2 separate regions of the Homo sapiens genome follow, and region 2 is linked to region 1. A link means that fine-mapping ties the variant in region 1 to the expression of a gene that starts in the linked region. Tissue or cell type: whole blood. Region 1 holds a variant in brackets; the other region holds the start of a gene. All regions are shown on one strand. Distances are between the middles of the regions.

What was found. PIP is the estimated chance that this variant, and not a neighbour inherited with it, causes the effect.
Region 2: it holds the start of APPL2, and the variant in region 1 is fine-mapped to the expression of APPL2 in whole blood (INTERVAL, PIP 0.95).

The regions. Positions count from the first base shown.
Region 1 is chr12:105,179,689-105,187,956 of GRCh38, reverse strand. All of the region lies in intron 17 of APPL2 (adaptor protein, phosphotyrosine interacting with PH domain and leucine zipper 2), which reads left to right. Among named protein-coding and RNA genes, the nearest start is that of APPL2, 52 kb to the left of the region's middle. The variant AAG/G (reference allele first, on the strand shown) is at 4,885.
Region 2 is chr12:105,231,348-105,239,347 of GRCh38, reverse strand. It overlaps APPL2 (adaptor protein, phosphotyrosine interacting with PH domain and leucine zipper 2), which reads left to right and starts at 3,174. Exons shown (of 21, transcript NM_018171.5): 1 at 3,174-3,389. The coding sequence starts at 3,336. RefSeq lists an enhancer at 2,791-3,291 and silencers at 3,156-3,295, 3,346-3,595.

The sequences.
Region 1 (8,268 bases):
ACTATTTATAAAAAATAATGGAAAAAAACTTAAAAATCTGCCTAAATAACTTGGCCATCACAGAGAGAGCAGGCCATATTAACTACATGATTTAGTGTTTCAGGTAATACGATCTGGGTTTCAGATATGACCAAAATCCTGGTTATGAACATGGGTGTATGATACTGTAGCCACAGGTAGCATCTGCAGCAAAACTAGCCTGAACTGAGATGTGTTTTCAGTGTTAAATACATACCAAATTTCTAAGATTTAGGATGTAAAACATCTCACTAATTTTTTAGGTTAATCACATGTCTGGTAATATTTTAGATATACTGGATTAAGTAAAATTAATTTTATCTGTTACTTTTCACTTAATGTGGCCGCTGGAAAAACTTCGATGACATATAAGGCTTCCATTACATTTCTAAGGGACAGCACTGCTTTAGAGCCAGAATGTCTCAGTTTATTCCTGGCTTCGGCATTTCTTAGTTATGTGACCTTAAGCAAATTTTTGAGCCTCTGTACCTCAGTTTTTTCAGCTGTAAAATGAAAGTAACTATTCACACCCTCCACTGTTGTCATGAGGAATAAATGTCATGAGGAATAAATGTGCTAATATATGTAAGACATTTACAACTCACTGGCACATGAAAAGTGCTCAATGAACGTTAGCTTCAAAAAAGGTAACTAGGACTATAGCAAAAATTAGGATATAGCTTCTTCCATTCATTAAGCCCATCCTTTTCATTTATTATGAACCTTATCTGAGAATTAAGTTCTTATTAATAAAACCTGTTCTTTCACTATGTCCTGGACCTTTTACAGAAATGGGCTCATGGTTCTTATAATCCTATTGGTCCTGGAATAATTTCCACCAAAAAGATCAAAGGAAAATATATGTAAAAGTACTGTGAAAAACCACAGCACATCAAAGTGAAAAGAAAAACTACAGAATGGGAAAAAAGTATTCACAAATTCTATCTAATATGGATGTAGTACACAAAATATACAAAGAACTCTTATAAAACTCAACAGAAAGACAACCCAATTAAAAAATGGACCAAGGACTTGAAATAGACATTTTTCCAAAGATCATATACAAATGGCCAATGAGGACATGAAAAGATGCTATGTGTTACTAGGGAAATGCAAAACAAATCCACAATGAGATATGTCACTCCATATTAAGATGGCGTGCGCACGCATGCACACTGTCTCACAGATGTTTATATATATATGATATATATGATATATATATGATATGATATATGATATGATATATGATATATATATGATATATCATATATATGATATATATGATATCGATATCATATATATGATATATATGATATATATATGATATATATATTTAATGGAAAATAAGCGTTTAGCAAGGATGTGAAGAAACTGGAACCCATTGCTGGTGGGAATATAAAATGGTTCAGCTGCTGTGAAAAAATAGTTTGGCGGGCTCCTGGGTAGTTACCCAAAAGAATTAAATACAGGTGTTCAAACAAAAACTTATACGCAAATGTTCATAGCAGTCCTTTTCGTGATATCCAAATGGTGGAAATAATACAAATGCCCAACATCAAATGAATGGATCAACAAAATGTGGTAGAGTTGAGCATTCCAAATCTGGAAATCTCAAATGCTCCAAAATCTGAAACTTTTTGAGTGCCAACTTGATGCTCAAAAGAGATGCTCATTGGAGCATTTTGGATTTTGGGATGCTCATCCTGGTAAATATAATGCAAGTATTCTAAAATCTGAAAAAAAAGCTGAAATCCAAAACAATTTCAGATACAGGATACTCAACCTGTATATATATATGATGGAATACTATTTGGCCTTAAAAAGGAACAAAGGACTGATAAGTGCTACAACATGGATGAATGATGAAATCATTGTGCTAAGTGAAAGAAGCCAGGTACAAAAGGCAACATACTGTAGGGTTCTGTTTATATGAAATATCCAGAGTAGGCAAATCCATAGAGACAGAAGACAGACTAGAGATTGCCAGAGGGTGGGAGGAGGAATGAGTAACTGCTTAATGGGGATGGAGTTTCCTCTGGGATGATAAAAATGTCCTGGGACTAGATAGTGGTAATGGCTGCACAAAGTTATGAAGACACTTAACATCACTAATGATAAATCTGACGTTATGCATACGTCACCACAGTAAACATACCCCTGCAGTGGAATAGGTTCTGAGACCATTTAGAGGTCACACAGAAAATTAGAAGATTTAAAAAGAAAAATTGATTCCCAGACAAGGTGCCTGAATAGGAACAGCTCCAGTCTGCAGCTCCCAGTGAGACCAACACAGAAGGCAGGTGATTTCTGCATTTCCAACTGCGGTACCCAGCTTATCTCACTGGGACTGGTTAGACAGTGGGTACAGCCTATGGAGGGCAAGCAGAAGTAGCGTGCGGCATTGCATTACCCAGGAAGCACAAGGGGTCGGGGAACTCCCTCCCCTAGCCAAGGGAAGCCGTGAGTGAGGGACAGACCTATCCAGCCCAGATACTAGGCTTTTGCCACTGTCTTTGCAGCCCGCAGACCAGGAGATTCCATCGAGTGCCTACACCACCAGGGCCCTAAGTTTCAAGGACAAAACTGGGCGGCCATTTGGGCAGACACTGAGCTAGCTGCAGGAGAATTTTTTTCGCACCCCAGTGGCGTCTGAACCTCAGCGAGTCCCAACTGTTCACTCCCCTGGAAAGGGGGCTGAAGCCAGGGAGCCAAGTGGTCTTGCTCAGTGGATCCCATCACCACGGAGCCCAACACACTGAGATCCACTGGCTTGAAATTCTCACTGGCAGCACAGCAGTCTGAAGTTGACCAGGGATGCTCGAGCTTGGTGGGGGGGAGGGGCATCCGCCATTACTGAGGCTTGAGTAGGTGGTTTTCCCCTTAGAGTGTAAAGAAAGCCATCAGGAAGATCATACTGGGCTGAGCCTGCCGCAGCGCCATAAAACTGCTGTAGCCAGACTGCCTCTCTAGATTCCTCCTCTCTGGGCAGGGCATCTCTGAAAGAAAGGTAGCAGCCCCCAGTCAGGGGCTTACAGATCAAACTCCCATCTCCCTGGGACAGAGCACCTGGGGGAAGGGGTGGCTGTGGGCGCAGTTTCAGCAGACTTAAATGTTCCTGCCTGCCAGCTCTCAAGAGAGCAGCAGGTCTCCCAGCACAACGCTTGAGCTCTGCTAAGGGACAGACTGCCTCCTCAAGTGAGTCCCTGACTCTGGTGGTTCCTGACGGGGAGACACCTCCCAGCAGGAATCGACAGACACCTCATACAGGAGAGTTCCAGCTGGCATCTGGTGGGTGCCCTTCTGGGATGAAGCTTCCAGAGGAAGGAGCAGGCAGCAGTCTTTGCTATTCTGCAGCCTCCACTGGTGATACCCAGGCAAAGAGAGTCCGGAGTGTACCTTCAGCAAACTGCAGCAGACCTGCAGAAGAGGGGCCTGAAGGAAAACTAACAAACAGAAAGCTATAGCATCAACATCAACAAAAAGGATGACTACACAAAAACCCCACCCAAAGGTCACCAGCATCAAAGACCAAAGGTAGATAAATCCACAAAGATGAGGAAAAAGCAGCACAGAAAGGCTGAAAATTCCAAAAACCAGAATGCCTCTCCTCCTCCAAAGGATCACAACTCATTGCCAGCAAGGGAACAAAATTGGACGGAGAATGAGTTTGAAGAATTTACAGAAAGAGGCTTCAGAAGGTGAGTAATAACAAACTCCTCCAAGCTAAAGGAGCATGTTCTAACCCAATGCGAGGAAGCTAAGAATCTGGATAAAAGGTTATAGGAACTGCTAACTGGAATAACCAGTTTAGAGAAGAACATAAATAACCTGATGGAGATGAAAAACACAGCACGAGAACTTCGTGAAGCATACACAAGTATCAATAGTCAAATCGATCAAGTGGAAGAAAGGATACCAGAGATTGAAGATTAACTTAATGAAATAAAGTGTGAAGACAAGATTAGAGAAAAAAGAATGAAAATGAGTGAATAAAGCCTCTAAGAAATATGGGACTATGTGAAAAGACCAAACCTATATTTGATTGGTGTACCTGAAAGTGACAGGGAGAATGGAACCAAGTTAGAAAACACTCTTCAGGATATTATCCAGGAGAACTTCCACAACCTAGCAAGACAAGCCAACATTCAAATTCAGGAAATACAGAGAACACCACAAAGATACTCCTCGAGAAGAGCAACCCCAAGACACATAATCATCAGATTCACCAAGGTTGAAATGAAGGAAAAAATGTTAAGGGCAGCCAGAGAGAAAGGTCACATTACCCACAAAGGGAAACCCATCAGACTAACGGCGGATCTCTCTGCAGAAACGCTACAACCCAGAAAAGAGTGGGGGCACACATTTAACATTCTTAAGGAAAAGAATTTTCAACCCAGAATTTCATATCCAGCCAAACTAAGCTTCATAAGCAAAGGAGAAATAAAATCCTTTACAGACAAGCAAATGCTGAAGGATGTTGTCACCACCACACCTGCTTTACAAGAGCTCCTGAAGGAAGCACTAAATATGGAAAGGAAAAACCAGTACCAGCCACTGCAAAAACATACCAAAATGTAAAAACCATCAGCACTGTGAAGAAACTGCATCAACTAACAGGCAAAATAACCAGCTACCATCATAATGACAGGATCACATTCACACATAACAATATTAACCTTAAATGTAAACAGGCTAAATGCCCCAATTAAAAGACACAGACTGGCACATTGGATAAAGAGTCAAGACCCATCAGTTTGCTGTATTCAGGAGACCCATCTCATGTGCAGAGACACACATAGGCTCAAAATAAAGGGATGGAGGAAGATTTACCAAGCAAATGGAAAGCAAAAAAAAAAAAAAAAAAAA[AAG/G]CAGGGGTTGCAATCCTAGTCTCTGATAAAACGGACTTGAAATCAAAAAAGACAAAGAAGGGCATTACATAGTGGTAAAGGGATCAATGCAACAAGAAAAGCTAACTATCCTAAATATATATATACCCAATACAGAAGCACCCAGATTCGTAAAACAAGTTCTTAGAGATCTACAAAGAGACTTAGACTCCCACACAATAATATTGGGAGACTTTAGCACCCCACTGTCAATATTAGATCAACAAGACAGAAAATTAACAAGGATATTCAGGACTTAAACTCAGCTCTGGACCAAGTGGAACTAACACACATCTACAGAATGCTCCATCCCAAATCAACAAAATATACATTCTTCTCAGCACCACGTCACACTTATTCTAAAATTGACCACATAATCGGAAGTAAAATACTCCTCAACAAATGCAAAAGAACAGAAATCACAACAAACTGTCTCTCAGACCACAGTGCAATCAAATTAGAACTCTGGATTAAGAAAGTCATTCAAAACTGCACAACTACATGGAAACTGAACAACCTGTTCCTGAATGACTGCTGGGTAAATAAATAATGAAATTAAGGCAAAAATAAATAAATTACTTGAAATCAATGAGAACAAGGACACAACATACCACAATCTCTGGAACACAGCTAAAGCAATGTTTTTATAGCACTAAATGCACACAGGAAAAAGTGGGAAAGATCTAAAATTGACATCCTAACATCACAATTAAAAGAACTAGAAGGTTGGGCACCATGGCTCATGCCTGTAATCCCACCACTTTGGGAGGCCAAGGCAGGTGGATCACCTGAGGTCAGGAGTTTGAGACCAGCCTGGCCAACATGATGAAACCCTGTCTCTACTAAAAATACAAAAAATTTGCTAGGTGTGGTGGCAGGCACCTATGTAATCCCAGCTACTGGAGAGGCTGGAGCAGGAGAATCACTTGAACCCAGGGAGGTGGAGGTTGCAGTGAGCCGAGATCATGCCATTGCACTCCAGCCTGGGCAACAAGAGCAAAACTCCATCTCAAAAAAACTGGAGAAGCAAGAGTAAACAAATTCAAAAGCTAGCAGAAGACAAGAAATAACTAAGATGAGAGCAGAACTGAAGGAGATAGAGACACGAAAAACCCTTCAAAAATCAATGAATCCAGGAGCTGGTTTTTTGAAAAGATTAACAAAATTGATAGACTGCTAGCCAGACTAATAAAGAAGAAAAGAGAGAAGAATCAAACAGACACAATAAAAAATGATAAAGGGGATTATCACCACTGATCCCAGAGAAATACAAACTACCAACAGAGAATACTATAAACACCTGTATGCAAATAAACTAGAAAATCTAGAAGAAATGGATAAATTCCTGGACACATACACCCTCCCAAGATTAAACCAGGAAGAAGTTGAATCCCTGAATAGACCGATAACAAGTTCTGAAATTGAGGCAATAATTAATAGCCTACCAACCAAAAAAAAGCCCAGGACCAGATGGATTCACAGCCACATTCTACCAGAGTTACAAAGAGGAGCTGGTACCATTCCTTCTAAAACTATTCCAAACAATAGAAAAAGAGGGACTCCTCCCTAACTCATTTTATGAAGCCAGCATCATCCTGATACCAAAACCTGGCAGAGACACAATAAAAAAACACAATTTCAGGGCAATACCCCTGATGAACATCAATGCAAAAATCCTCAATAAAATACCAGCAAACTGAATCCAGCAGCACATTAAAAAGCTTATCCACCATGATCAAGTTGGCTTCATCCCTGGGATGCAAGGCTGGTTCGACATACGCAAATCAGTAAATGTAATCCATCACGTAAACAGAACCAATGACAAAAACCACATGATTATCTCAATAGATGCAGAAAAGGCCTTCGATAAAATTCAACACCCCTTCATGCTAAAAACACTCAATAAACTAGGTATTGATGGAACATATCTCAAAATAATGAGCTATTTATGACAAACTCACAGCCAGTATCATACTGAATGGGCAAAAACTGGAAGCATTCCCTTTGAAAATTAGCACAAGACAAGGATGCCCTCTCTCACCACTCCTATTCAACATAATATTGGAAGTTCTGGCCAGGGCAGTCAGGCAAGAGAAAGCAATGAGGGTATTCAAATAGGAAGAGAGGAAGTCAGATTATCTCTGTTTAAAGATGACATGATTGTATGTTTAGAAAACTCCATCGTCTCAGCCCAAAAACTCCTTAAGCTGATAAGCAACGTCAGCAAAGTCTCAGGATACAAAATTAATGTGCAAAAATCACAAGCATTCCTATACACCAATAATACACAAACAGCCAAATCATGAGTGAACTCCCATTCACAATTGCTACTAAGAGAATAAAATACCTAGGAATACAACTTACAAGGGATGTGAAGGACCTCTTCAAGGAGAACTACAAACCACTGCTCAAGGAAATAAGAGAGGACACAAACAAATGGAAAAACATGCCATGCTCATGGATAGGAAGAATCAATATCGTGAAAATGGCCATACTGCCCAAAGTAATAGTGCTATTCCCATCAAGCTACCACTGACTTTCTTAACAGAGTTAGAAAAAACTACTTTAAATTTCATATGGAACCAAAAAAGAGCCCGCATAGCCCAGATAATCCTAAGCAAAAGGAACAAAGCTGGAGGTATCATGCTACCTGACTTCAAACTATACTACAAGGCTACAGTAACCAAAACAGCATGGTACTGGTACCAAAACAGATATATAGACCAATGGAACAGAACAGAGGCCTCAGAAATAACACCAAACATCTACAACCATCTGATCTTTGACAAACCTGACAAAAACAAGAAATGAGGAAAGGACTCCCTATTTAATAAATGATGTTGGGAAAACTGGCTAGCCATATGCAGAAAACTGAAACTGGACCCCTTCCTCTTAACACCTTATACAAAAATTAAGTCAAGATGGATTAAAGATTTAAATGTAAGACCTAAAACCATAAAAACCCTAGAAGAAAACCTAGGCAATACCATTCAGGACAGAGGCATGGGCAAAGAGTTCATGATGAAAACACCAGAAGCAATGGCAACAAAAGCCAAAATTGACAAATGGGGTCTAATTAAACTAAAGAGCTTCTGCACAGCAAAAGAAACTATCATCAGAGTGAACAGGCAACCTACAGAATGGGAGAAAATTTTTTCAATCTATCCATCTGACAGAGGGCTAATATCCAGAATCTACAAAGAACTTAAACACATTTACAAGAATAAAACAACCCCGTCAAAAAGTGGGTGAAGGATATGAACAGACATTTTTCAAAAGAAGACATGCGGCTGACAAACGTGAAAAAAAGCTCATCATCACTGGTCGTTAGAGAAATGCAAATCAAAACCACAATGAGATACCA
Region 2 (8,000 bases), 52 kb before region 1:
CCCTGATTCAATTCTCAGCTCAACAGTTGCACACCTCAAAGAATCCTTTCCACTTCCCATGATCCTCTATTCCTTTACTAAAGGTTATCATACACTTATCAACTTGTATTTGTTTCTTATTATTTCCTCCATTAGAATATAAACTCCATTAGGGCAAGGACTACTTTTTGCTTCAGCCTATATCCTCAGCTTCTAGAGAAGAGTCTAACACACAGTCGGTGCTACCTAGTGAATGATTAACGGCAAAAGCAGCATTGTGCTATCAAATGAAATGAGATTCATGAAAACATTTTTTAAACTCTGGAGTATCAATCATGTATAAGTTATAATAACACATTATAGTTTAGTAAGTATTTATCAAGCAACTGCTTTTGTGCTAGGTAATGTACTAGGCACTCTAATTACAGAAATAAATAAGACCAAGTTCCTACCCATTCTAGCTGGAAGGTTGGAGGTGGAAACAAAGAGAGGTAAGTGTTATTCTAGAATTATCTCGGCAAGTGCTACTGAAGCACACTCAAGGAAAGGAAAATGTATTCTGCTTGGGGGGACAGGAGTAAATGAAGACTTCATCAAAAAAGTCACATTAAACTGGGATTTGATGATTGTGGTTGGGTTTGTCAGACAAGAGGCAGGAGAAAGGGCTTGACTGGCAGAGGAAAGAATCTCAATGCGTGTGCCCTATCATGCAGTTTGCTAAGCATCTCCCAAAACAGCTGCCTTCTTCACTCCTGCCTTTCTCTCTTACTCCTGAAGCCCCAGGCCTTCTCTGACCTGGCCATCCTGGGTCCTTTTTTTGTGTCTCACTGTGTCCTTTTCCCCACTGGCCTTCAATGGGTCACAGGTTACACCTCCATATAATTCATCCTCTCTCTCTTCAGACATCACGACAACTCCAGACTGTCCATCTTTATACTTCCTGTCACCAACTTCACAGCTGACCAGGGATTTCAGAGACAGTGGGGTGGATTTCTAAAATCCACCTGCATAATAGTTTAATAGGAACAGATATATACTCTTTAATGAAACATTTTTAAATGTTCATGTTGACATAAAAATTCCTCTTATGTAGTTTCTCACAGATTATCAAAGGAGAGGATATTTGCCTTCAGAATTTAAATGAGAATCAAACAAGTGGGAGACAGTGCTTAACACTGAGCAGTCTATATTTAATACATGAATGAATGATTGGATGAATTAACAAATGAGATAAATTAAAACCATTTATGCATGTGTTGTATTTCCAGATCTACTTTTGTAACTTAGTTGTTTTGAATTTGGGATAGATTTTCCCATAGAAACAATGTTGTAAACAGTTCTTAAGTTCCAAGAAATCCCACTAAGGCTGTTTAGCCCATAATGTAGCAAGAAAATGCAGAAAAGTAATGGGATAGCTTAAACAATTTTTGAATGTTGAATACTAGTATTTGAAGAAAAGTAACTTTAATTAGAAGATGAGGTGGTACATGAAAAATGCTGTGATTCCCAAGGGGCTGTCTGAGCCCTTTCAAGGGTTCTGAGGGCACTAACTTCTTGTAATGCATATTTTCAAATTAAAATGTGCACATTTATTTCCCTGGGTATAATACTATCCTTGTACTGTTCTCGCAATCAGGATGAAGGAAGAGCATGAGTCTGGCCGTGAGGAATTAGATTTCAGTGAGAAGAGAGTCTGGGACACTGGATGAGGTAAAATGAACTGAATGGCAGGCGGTATAAAATAGAGGAAAGGGAAGAAATATGGTGTGAGCATGATTCCACCTATAGGGAAGACAAGAGTATGGTGGAGGCAAGAAAGAATAGGGAAGAAAGAATACTGTGGAGGAAAATATGGTAGATGGAGGCCATAAAATGGTTCAGGTCAGGTTGGCGCTGGCCAGACCAAGGGAATAATGGCCTTGGAGTTTTCAAGTGATCAGGCAGCATGCTACTATACTAGACTGTCAGAGGTGTCAGCAATGCAGATTGGGTCTTGATATACCTAAGAGGTCTCTGCAGAATGCAGAATTTATATATTACCATATCCCCTCTGTTGATTTTGGTGACACACATACTGCATGATTTTTTTTTTTTTTTTTGAGACGGAGTCTTGCTCTGTTGCCCAGGCTGGAGTGCAGTGGTGCCCTCTCGGCTCACTGAAACCTCTGCCTCCCGGGTTCAAGTGATTCTTCTGCCTCAGCCTCCCGAGTAGCTGGGATTACAGGCGCATGCCACCACGCCCGGCTAATTTTTGTATTTTTAGTAGAGACGGGGTTTCAGCATCTTGGCCAGACTGGTCTTGAACTCCTGACCTCGTGATCCACCCATCTCGGCCTCCCAAAGTGCTGGGATTACAGGCGTGAACCACCACGCCCGGCCAGTCTTATTAACTTCTAAAGAAGGAACTTCAGAAACCCTTGCCTTCCGTGTAAAAAGGTGTCACGTTCCACTTGCCAGTCTTCTTCCATCCCTCTCCCTTCCTTCTTTTCTTCCTCTGGCGTTTACTAACTGACCCTGGGCAGACCACTTATTTCTCTGGGTCCCATTTTCTCATCTCTAAATGACAACACTGGAACCTAGATTATCTAGCCCTTCCAATTCTAAACATTTGATTATGAAATTCTCCAAAATCACAAAACATAAACCAGGAGGACGAGACCTAATTATGACCACATCAAATAGCTGTGGTTTCCAAAGTGGTTATTTCTGATTATCACAGACGAGTCAGTTATCCAGCTTTTCTCCTCTTTTCTTTGTTCCCATAGCATAGGCGACCTCTTTGCTCTCAGAGCTGTTTCAGGGGCGTCGAAATTTATCTAGAAAAAGTGGTGTGGGAAGTGTGGGTTTTTCCTTCCATTAAAAGAAAAAATCTGTTCGCTCCTTCAACTCAAAAGGCTTTCTGGGTAGCCATAAGCAGATAAAACCTTATCTTTCTACCCTCGAGTTCCTCTTTTGGACTTCATATGCATTGACTTGACGGACCTTCAGCACAGAGAACAAACACCCGAAGGGTTCCCTCAGCAACGGGACTGGCACCCAGAGCCCCCCGCTCCCCGCGAGCCGGCGAGCGCAGGCGGAAGCGCGGGCGCCACATTTCCGGTGTCGGGACCGGAGCTCACCACACTTCCGGTTTCCCTGCCGGGCGCGCCACACTTCCTGTTGATCCGGCTCGGCCGGGGGCTGGGCCGGCGGGCAGGCGGCGGCGGCCACTGGCCAGGCGTGGACGCGCGCGGGGCCGCCGCGGGCACGGAGTGGCCGCCGCGTCGCCTGAGCCCAGAGCCGGGGAGTGCTCTCGGCCGCCGCGTCTCCTGCCCTCTGTCCTTCCAACCCAGCCCTCGGCTGAGCCGCGCCGCACCATGCCCGCCGTGGACAAGCTCCTGCTAGAGGAGGCGTTGCAGGACAGCCCCCAGGTACCTCCCGCCGCTCCGGTGCCCCTCGCCCGCAGGGGTGAGGCCGAGGAGGCCCCTCCAGCCCCGGAGTGGAGGCCGCGCCCCCGGCCGGGCAGCCGCGGGAGTGCGCCCGGCCCCCTCGCGGCGCCTCCCACCGGGTTCTCTCGGGCTGAGGAGGGGGCGGGCCGGGCCCTGAGTCCTGAGCCGGGGCAGAGCTGTGGAACAGGGGAGAGAGCCCCGCGGCCGGAGTCTTGATGTCGTGACCCCCCTGCAAGCTCAGCTGCAACTGAGTCTGCGAGATCTAAACTTTGATTCCATGTAGTAGCTGAGTGCCTCAGGAAAACCACCTTATTGTGCCTTAGTTTTGTCGTCTGTAAAATAGGAATAATAATTGTGCCTGCTTCATAGGGTTGTTAGGAGAAGTCAATGAGAAATACCTGTAAAGTTGTCAGCAGACAATGTCCGGTACAGATAATGAGTCAGTCTTATTACTGCTACTCCTAATGATGTGATGAGACTTGTGCCAGCCAGAATGAGAGGCAGAGGGCCTGGATCTCTTTTCCGGCGGTACCAGGCCTCCTTTTGGCACCGTTTTCCCATTAGTGAAGAGAAAAATACAGTACCTGCCCCATTTGTCGCACAAGGGAACTTCATTAGCACACTCGAGATGAGAGTCAAGTCCTTTGAGCTCTGCAGATGAAAACTGGTGTGTAAATATAGCAAATGAGTGCAGGATGACATTAGTTCATAATTCAGCACATCTTTCCCCAGGGGTCTTTTGTTCTCCTTTGTTTAACATTTCTCCAGCTTCGTACCTACACTCCTGGTTCAGCATCCCGGGTTTATTTAAATAAGTGCCTTTATTTCCTAGTGTCTCAACTCTTGAAAACTTAGAATAAGATTAACCTATTTTCGTTTCACACTTTCCCCTCTCTTTTGGGGTTCCTTCCCTTTTTCTTCTAAGTGAATAATACTTCCCAGGATGATCCTTGTATGGATTTACCTACATCGACAGTTCAGAATAAGTCCGAAGGGCTGTATGCATAGGTGTCTTTTGTTCATTTTTTGTGATCCTCCTAGTGTAGATAAGTAAGGAACTGGAAGCAAGCTGTGTGTGTGTTTTTTGTTTGTTTGTTTTGTTTTTTGGTAAGTTTGCATCCTCTGGACGACTTTTTCAAGGCCTCCCTTTTTTATATGGCTGTAGACTCCTGGCATTTTAATCAGACTAAAGCCCTTGGTAGAAGGCATTTTGTCCATGTTCATATCTGTTGTGTGGAATCTGAAGATAGCAATGTGAGATTTTAAATGATCACTTTGAACAAGGATCTCTGTTTGCCTTGCACTTATGGAAACTGAGGTGCACAGAAATATCCTGCTTTTCTAACCTACATGGTGATGCCTAAGCCAGGTTACAGTGATTATACTAACTGATTCTTGATGTTGTCCTCACAAACAGATCATATTCTTAATTTCCAGCTCTAACATAAAGGAATATACACTGTTTGTGAGTGGCTTAAAGGATTTGCCCAGCTGTGAGGAAGTAGACAGGACTGTAGAGCAAGTCAGGAGACCTGGGTTCTAATTCTGGCTCTCACGCTCACTTAGGATGTGATGTGGGTGAGTCTCTTCATCTCCACCCTGTAGCTGGCTCAGTTTCCTAATCTACAGAACATCTACAGAATGAGAGACAGGGAGGGAGCAGGTGATCTTCAAGGTGCTTTAGAGTTAACATTGTCATATCTACATGGTGTATAACTTTGAACTTGTATGTGGCAGAGGAGGTTTAGAGATATTATCATTCTTATTTAATATGTTCCTTTTAATATAGGAAGTTTATTTGTCATTGCTTTTGAGACTTGGCCATCACCCTTAAGAGGGCTCTTGATGGTGCTGTTGTGCAGAATGGAAGCTGACTTTAAGAAGGTCTTTAATGATCATCAGAGCATATTTATATACTACTCTCTTGTATGTGACCTGTGCCTAATGTAGCTTTACTCCCAAGGTGACTCCTAGACTTGGAACTGGAAGGAATCTAATCCATCCCCTTCATTTTATGTGCAAAGCATAAAAACAATAGCAAATGCCTGTTTCATGGATTTTATGTGCCAGGGACTCTTCTAAATGCTTTACATATATTAACTCACTCAATCCTCCCAATAGTCTTGAAGTACATTCTCTATTTAAATAACTAAGGAGCAGAGAAGTAATTTGCTTAGAATTATACACCATAAAGTGACAGAGCCAGGACTGGAACCCAGGCAACTTGCCTGTACTAGGGATATGGTTCAAGTTAGCCCAGCTATCTAGCACCGGGCTTTTCTGTCATCAGTGACCTAAAATGTTTCACTAAAAGGAAAAGATCCTAATAAACCATCTATTGTGTGTTTCTTCTAGTTTTATGAAGAGTAATTTTGAGAGTTGCTTCAGTAATGTGATTGCACAGGATGAATTAAATGAACACCAAAGCTTTTGTAATTGAACTGAGTGACCCAGGAAGAGCTGAATAGCAGTTAACTGACCTTAGACACATCTATTCATGGACTCCTTTTTAGTTTGCAGTGCTGCACGATGCATTGTAAAACTAGTCTGTGTGCATACACATGCGTTATTTCTGCTTACCTCTCATATGTGGGAAGCTGAACATTTTAGGGATTAAGAAATCTGCCTCCATTGTTGTTTAGAAGCCTCTGCTCCTTGCCTGGCACTACTGGCTGTTGGGAATGTGAAGATAAATAAGAGTGACTACCCTTGACTGGTTCACAGTTTGTTCCAGAGACAGATAATGAGGCAACAGTTCCAGTACAGTGTGAATCCTGCTGCGATAGGAACACAAATGCAGCTTTGAGCTCCTGCAGCTTGTACTTCTTCAGGGGCTTATTCTCTTGTCCTGTAAGTAGTACACTTTTGAGGTAAGGTGAAGACAACAGCACTGTTGCTTGCTCGGTTTGTGTTTTGTTTGTTTCTTTTGCGATTGGCATAACGGAACAAAGAAATAAAAGATGTAGTTCTGAGGTTATGCAGTTGAGTGGCCCGGCTGGGAGCAGCCCTCTCCAACCAAATCAGGCCTTTCTTTCCTCAAACAAGATAATCTCAAAACATAACCTGGTGGTTTTATATGTCTTCACTGTGGAGATGTTTTGTGCTGTTCCTCTTTTTGTTTATAACCTATTTTTCCTTTCAATAGACTTGGTTCTTTTTTTTTTTTTTTTTTTTTTTGAGACAGGGTCTCGCTTTGTTGCCCAGACTGGGGTGCAGTGGCATGAACACGGCTCACTGCAGCCTCAGCCTCCTGGGCTCAAGCGATCCTCCCACCTCAGCCTTCTGAGTAGCTAGGACTACAGGCATGCATCACCACGCATGGCTAATTTTTTAATTTTTGTAGAGACAGAGTCTTGCTGTGTTGCCCAGGGTGGTCTTGAACTCCTGGGCTCAACCAATCTTCCTGTCTTGGCCTCCCAAAGTCTTGGTTCTTTTCACTAGGACATTCTCTTCCTCCACCAAATTATGGAGATAAGAACTTTGTTTATAACCTTAAAATTTTCTCAGTAGTCAGTGGTGTTAACATTGGGCCACTACACAATTACACACACTATTCTTGAGAATGTCTAGGAGTGTTTTATTAGGTAATACCCAGTTTCTTTAAGGTAAAGGAGTGATAGGGAGCTGAGGCTGTGTGCATAGGGTGCTTGGATTTGTTTCTCTGGCCGAGCATACCCTTAAAAGTGTCGGGCAGTAGAAAATGGATGGAATTCCACTCCTGAATCTGCTACTGTTACTTTTGGCAAGTTACTCAATCTCTCTGAGGTTGTGTTTGGAGGTATGTAAAATAAAAATAAAAATAGCTATTTAGTTGAGTTGTTAGGAAGAACAAGTAACATATGTAAAGTGTCTCCATGCTGGCATGCCATAGTAACCCCATAAATGATTGCTGTTGTTATCTTTGTAAGTGAGATATACCAGTGTCTTTCTGACCGTGTCTTTCTGACCGTGGGATTTTGAGCTACTGGTGTGCCTTTGCTTTATTCTTGGTCTCATTCCTTCTTTATGTCTCAGAATATCTCTGTTGTTCCAAACCAAAGTTTGAGCAGACACAGTATAGTAAATGAGGATAGCCAGTGTCCAAGGTAGCTGGTTATATTTTTTCCAGAGGTGATCACTGCCAAGTTAAATTAAAAAGGGAAGACCAGAGTTTCCCTGTCAGTTCTAATGGGCATCACAGTTGCATTTCCACGATATAAGGAAAAAGGACACTTGTGATGTAGTTCTCTGGCAGGTATTGTGGGCGGGAACATGGTAGTAGCATCCAGCTCCAGTCTGCCCCTGTCCTGCCTCCAGTCAGGGCTGTACGCTGTGGACCAAAGATCATGCTCGCTGATGAGAGCCACCCTGCTGGTGACCTCAGTGCTGCCGACCCATTTACATCCCAGCCCTGCCACATTCCTACAGTGGGAGGTTGAACACATTTCTTAACCTTGATGAGCCTCAGTTTCATCATCAGTAAAATGAAGTTAATGGAACCATGGAATCTACCTTGGAGAGTTGCTAGAAGAATTAAATGAAGTCACATATGTTTAGTGCCCAGCACAGCGTCCAGCACATAGGTGGTACAGAGTAAGTGGTAATTTTAGTTTT